2 separate regions of the Homo sapiens genome follow, and region 1 is linked to region 2. The links come from fine-mapping of genetic effects on gene expression. A gene starts in region 2. The other region holds a variant in brackets. All regions are shown on one strand. Distances are from middle to middle.

Region 1 (2,915 bases), 79 kb before region 2:
AGCGGCTCAGTCCCATGAAAGCTCAGGTCTGTGCTGCTCTGCTCCGCCTGCATTTCTGAGGCTTCCTCCAGAATTCTTCTCAGGGTCAGTCAAGCCAGCAGCATCTGAGTAACATGCCGATTTTTCATGGCACGAATATGCTTTTGCTAACGTCTTCTACTTTTCACTGTTGCGCTATTTATGAAACCAGGAATTTTTTTCTCCGGCTTCAAATCAGTCTGAAAGTAGATACACAGTGATTAGTGATTAAATCACTAATTCTATTTCAGAATCTCTTGATTTTCTTGAGTGTACAATTTCTCTGATTAATGTTCTAGATTCTTTAATGTCACACTGGGAAATAAAAATGCTACTGAATGGCCACAAAACAAAACAAACCCATCTACCAAACAACACTGTCATGCAATGCTCAGTGTCAGCCTAAACTCCTGACATCCCACTCCAGCCCATCCCAGTGCTGCCTGGGGCCTTCCCCTTCTCTCCCTCACTCCCAGCCTCAGCATCCCGCAGCCCTGGCCCCACCAGGTTTGCATTGCTTCGCTGTCATGGCTTTGGCTCTGCCTGTATCCCTCGTGCCCCCTAGTCACTCCAAGCCCGCCTCTCCCTCCTAGCACACACTTAAAAGGCCAACCCGTATCCCCTCACTCTGAATCCATCTATTCCTCCTCTGTGATTTTCAGCCTCCCCCTCCTTCTCCATATCGGCATCTCAAACAGCCTTCCAACAAACAAAGCGTCTAACTTCGTTAGAAGTTTTGACTTTGATTTTGCCCAACTCTTCTGTAGTATATCTTTAAATTTTCAGATGCCATATGGCAGCCCAGAAGGGGCCTGTTAGTTGAAAAGGTATCGTGCACCACGACAGACAGGTCTACAGCCCCCACCCCAACCCCATCTTCCTCCTAGCCACGGCACCCTGTGAGACTGCAGTTCCCACGCACTGATGTCCCTTCCACATTCCACTCCACAACTTCAAGTATCATCCAGGCTGATGACATCTAAAATCTTTACCTCTAGTCTAGATCTATCTTAAGTTTAAGATCAGTCTGATTAATGGCCTCACAAGGTATCCTAAAAAATACTCAAATTAGCGTATTTGAATGGAATCACTATCCCCCCCAAAGAAGCTCTTCCTCCAGTGCTCCCTGGGTGGTAAAAGATGCCACCACCCACCAGGTCCTCAAGTCAGAGACCCAGGTGCCACTGAGACTCCAACCACCTCCTGGCCTCCGTACACGCATCACCTGGTCCTGCTGGCGCCACAGCCCAAGCCTCCCTCAAATCCATTCCCTTCCCTCCAGCCCCGCGGCTGCTGTAACCATAAAGGCCAACGTCACCGCACACGGATTATTACAACTGGCTGCCCTGCTAATCACCACGGTCGCGCCCCAGGTTCATTATTCTCAACTACCTGAATCCAGACCTTCAGGACGTGCTCGTGGCTGGGCTCTCCAGCCCCATGTTGCAGCACAGTCCCCCTCCACAGCTTAGCTGAACATGCTGCTCTCCTCCCCACTGACCCGAACAGCTCATCCTCACCTGTCAGGGGCCAGCCTGGACACCATCACCTCTGGAGCCTTCTGGAATCACCCACGTCTGTCAGATGCCTCATTTAAACATTCCCATGCCACTTGGATTTTCCCGTATCGAT[T/C]GACTGTAAGATCCTGTGTAAACATCTGTTCTGCCCTAATAGGCCATGAGCTGCTTGGCCACAGGGAGCTGGTTTGTCACCTTGTCACTGGGAGCCAGCAACAGGGAGCACTAAGTGGGCCCTCAATGATGATTTCCTGAAAGAATGCGTGATGTTGACACTGGACGTCAGAGCAGGCAGTCTGCATTCCTCCAGATCTTGAGTACTCAAACTCACACCTTTCAAAAGGTTTCTATAAGCAAGGTCAATTTAGCAACAATGTGAATATAGGTGTTCTTTCCTTTTACAGTCTTAAAGTACTACCAGCGAATACAGTTTTCCTTCTAGAAAAATCATCTTTTATTGTGTCTACAATGAGTACGGAGGACAGTATCTTCAATGGTCTTCTTTTGAGACAAAGCCCCTTGACAGTGAGAGACATATGGTTGCTGCTGAGGACGCTGCTACTGAAAAGAAACCTCGTAAAACCATCCACATGACAGAAGTCTGAAATCCCTACAATATCACAATTATTTTTCTTTCCCAAATGAGAAATTAAACACTACAGGCAATAGTATTTCTGAACTTCTAACTACTCTAAGGCTGTAATGACTATGAACTCAATTCACAAGGCACAATTAGTCCTTTAGTTCCTAAAAAATTCCATTTACACCTGCCAACATGCCTAGGATCTCTTTACCCAGCACTCTGAAAATATATTTTAGGCACATGTTTTAAATGTGTTTTTATGGCTGACCCACAAGTAACTATATAATTATAAGAATCCCAAAAGCAAAGCAACATTGGCAATAAGGTCCAATGAATACAGGATGCACATCTCCTGCAGGGCCGACGCCACACTGGACGGCCGATACACAAAACTGGGCAGCCACTATCTCCTCCCGCTTGGGCAGCAGCTAAGTGCCAGGCTCTTCTGTAATTCTCCACTGACCCCTAAAGGCTGTCGAAAGAACTTCAAGTTTGACTCAAACACCGGCTCTTAAGGACTTGTTCAGGCACCTTCCGCCAGAACCCCCTCACATGCGGAGATGCCCCTATAGATAGCATCGAGTACTGCTAAACATGATATTTGTTTTTTTTAGAAAAGACCTTAAAACAATTTGTTCACAATTTCAAAATCACCTCCTCAACCCGTATTTATGTATTTAAAAGTGACCTTACTGTATTTAAAAGTGACCTTATCAAAGTACCCATCTGATCTATTTTTCTCAAGACTAAGGATCCAGATGACATTTGTTAAGACCTAGGATTGTTTTCAAAGTCTC
Region 2 (2,915 bases):
TGCATCTGCATCACCAGCACTTAGCACAGTTCCCGGGGGGAACTTTGAGGACGGGGTTGTCCTCAAAGATTTCTTAGATAAATAAAGTGATAGAATCAAACTTTACAAGATGCAGCAAGAACTGTGTGAAGTCACTCATTTAATAGCGACACAAAATTATTCATGATTGCCCCAAGATTATCATAGAACATCCAATGAATTATGTACAGTAATTGTCATGAAGCATGAAAGGTCAAAATGCATTCTCAGTACTTTAAATGTAACTTTGAAGTCTTCCTTCAAAAATTGAGTAACTTCTTTTCCACATTTTGGTGCTTAAGATGTAACTCAGTTGCTTCCATTACTCAGAAAATTCCCTCATGGTGCATCCTCACTCTCTGCCCCACCAACCTGGCCAAAACAAGGAGCAAGAAATGGCATCCTGTACCATTTCTTTCAAAGTACCTCGACTACAAAATGGTTTTACCTACCGTATAGGATTAGTTTTGCTTATTAGTAACAATATTCGCCATGTGAACTTTCCCAGAATAGTTTTATATCAAATCCAACCTTCAACCCTTTAAACAGTAGGAAAACACGGCAGTTACAGTCGTTAACACCCTCTTCCCATAATACTCAAGCCTGTTAAACTTTCCTAACGAAAAGGGACGATGATGTGACACTCCAGCACCCCGCATCCACCTCCGCGGCGCAGCCGCTCTCTCCACCCCACAGGATGAACCCAAAGGCGCGCAGAGGCGCCCTCCCACGGCGCGTGACACCAGAGAAGGGGGATAAATTGGCGAGCTGGCATTCCTCCCGTCCTCACTGACGGACCCGCGAGCGGAGTGAGCGGTGACTCAGCCCGCTCCGGCTCGGCTCCGCCCTCCCGCCTCCCGCCCCGGCGTTCTCGCCCCGGCCTTGGCCTCTCCACTCCCTCCGCCCCGGTCCTGGCCCCCAGCCCTCCGCTGTCCTCCCCGGCTCCCTGACCCTCGAACCCCAGCCCTCCGCTCCCTCGTCCGGGCCCCACGTCCTCGGCCCGTCCCCCAGCCCTCTGCCCGGCCCTGCATCCTCGTTCCTCCAGCCCCGGAACGTATTAGGGCTGCACGCGCAGGGAGCAGCCCCCGGGACGGGTCTGCGGGCTTCGCGTCGCCCGGCCACTCTACCTTCGCTCCTGCCCAGGATCCTGCAGCACAGGTTCTGCAGCAGAACGTTCGGCGACTTCTGGTCCGGGGTCGCCATCCTCGCCCGGAGCCGTGCACGGTGGTCCGGGCAGAGCCGCCACTGCCGCCGCACGCGCAGGGACCGCGGCCCGCGCCCTTCCTGCGCCCCGCAAGCTCCCTGCTCCTGACAGGCTAAGGCGCGGGCGCCGCCGGCCACCAGGGCGCCATTTTAACGGAACCCGCCGAAAGCGCGGGCGCTTCCCACAATGCCCCGCTTCTTCCCTGCGCCGCGGCCGCGCGTGCGGCTGCCTAAGCGTTCCCGGCCCTGTCTGGTGCATTCCCCCTGCTGCTGCCCGGTCGGCCGAGAAAGTTCCGGGCGACAGGTGGCCCGAGGCCCTCGAGCTGCGCGGACAGAGCGGCCCCGGAGTCGCGAGCGTGACGGGCTTGCTTGGAGGGCACTTGGTGGCCGGTAGCACCATAAAGGCCATAATTTGGTGTGTGGGTGTGGGGGTGTGTGTGTTAACGGCATTGGTTTGATTCACACTTCTGATGAAAGAAGCCTGTTTAAAAAAGAAAAGAAAAAAGAAGCCTGTTTAAAGGGTGCAGGGTGTTACGATTGTTAACGTGCAGTGGGCAGTTCACCTGCTACGCTATCCAACAGGCGCCCTGCTCAGGCCCGACCTCGCACTGCCGCGCGGGCCGGTCCCCCCCGGCCCGGGTAACTGGGACGTCCTGGGAAAATAAATTAATCACGTACGGAGTGAGAGAACAGGAAACCTGCCGAGAAAAAGATCGATAAGCAGACAATTACACCAAGCCAACTTCAGTGCAATCGTTAAAGCTTACACATGGGTGCACGCTTGGGAGCCGTGAGCTACCATGTTAAAAGGCCAACTTCCTAAGGAAAAATGATGGAAAGAGATCCCGAGATCCTATGAAATGGAAGAGGGAGGACAACCCAGCTATCCCAACATCCCAGCTGAGGCCAGCCACACACGTGACTGTCTGCAAAGCCCGTCGGGCCTGGGTCCAGCTCAGGTTGCAGAATTGTTGGCAAGTAAAACGTTTGTTGTCGTTCTGACTCAAAAACATGGAGACAAAGCAGACTTGTAGGGTATTACAGTCAACAACTAGACCCTACAGCTAAAGGACTGTCTCCTTGCATGATGCAACAACCATCACAGCTCTGCAAGAGCAACCAAACCACCAAGGATGCGATCACCCCTCACTGCCTTCGATACGCATTCTGTGGAAACGCTTCTAAACTTGCATCACACTCAACACGATCAGTTAGTAACTGGCTTCTCATGAAGTTATTCTCTCAGCCGCATACTACAATGTCCAGATGTCATCTAAATCCTGCCACCCTCTCCCCCACCTTCAGCTGAAACGCTGCATGACTGCATCATCTTACCTGACCAGCTCTCTCCTAGGACAGACATGCAAGAACCCCCCTCACTAACGCTGATGTTATTTGGTTTACAGATGGCTCTTACTTAAAGATGCAGCTGGAAGGTATTACACTGGTTATGCCATAGCGTCTTTGCCCAAAGAAATAGAAAGTGCTTGTCTTCCAGGAGCAATCATCTCAACAAGCAAAGTTAATAGCATTAATTAGAGCCTGTCAGTTGGCAAAAGGAATAACTGCTAATCTTTATACCAATAGCAGGTATGCTTATAGAGTAGCTCATAACTTTGGAATGCTATGGAGACAAAGGATTTTTAACCTTTTCTAGTCAGCCCACAAAAAAATGGGTGCCTTGTTTCAGAATT

Evidence for each region. PIP is the estimated chance that this variant, and not a neighbour inherited with it, causes the effect.
Region 1: its variant is the best candidate, but not a certain one, in a credible set for the expression of TUBGCP3 in whole blood (GTEx, PIP 0.55).

The regions. Positions count from the first base shown.
Region 1 is chr13:112,507,606-112,510,520 of GRCh38, forward strand. All of the region lies in intron 17 of TUBGCP3 (tubulin gamma complex component 3), which reads right to left. Among named protein-coding and RNA genes, the nearest start is that of TUBGCP3, 79 kb to the right of the region's middle. RefSeq lists an enhancer at 15-933. The variant T/C (reference allele first, on the strand shown) is at 1,651.
Region 2 is chr13:112,586,760-112,589,674 of GRCh38, forward strand. TUBGCP3 (tubulin gamma complex component 3) reads right to left here and starts at 1,394. Exons shown (of 22, transcript NM_006322.6): 1 at 1,146-1,394. The coding sequence starts at 1,221. LOC124903251 (a long non-coding RNA gene) reads left to right here and starts at 1,427. Exons shown (of 2, transcript XR_007063945.1): 1 at 1,427-2,657. RefSeq lists silencers at 865-984, 1,015-1,074, 1,105-1,324 and an enhancer at 1,390-2,209.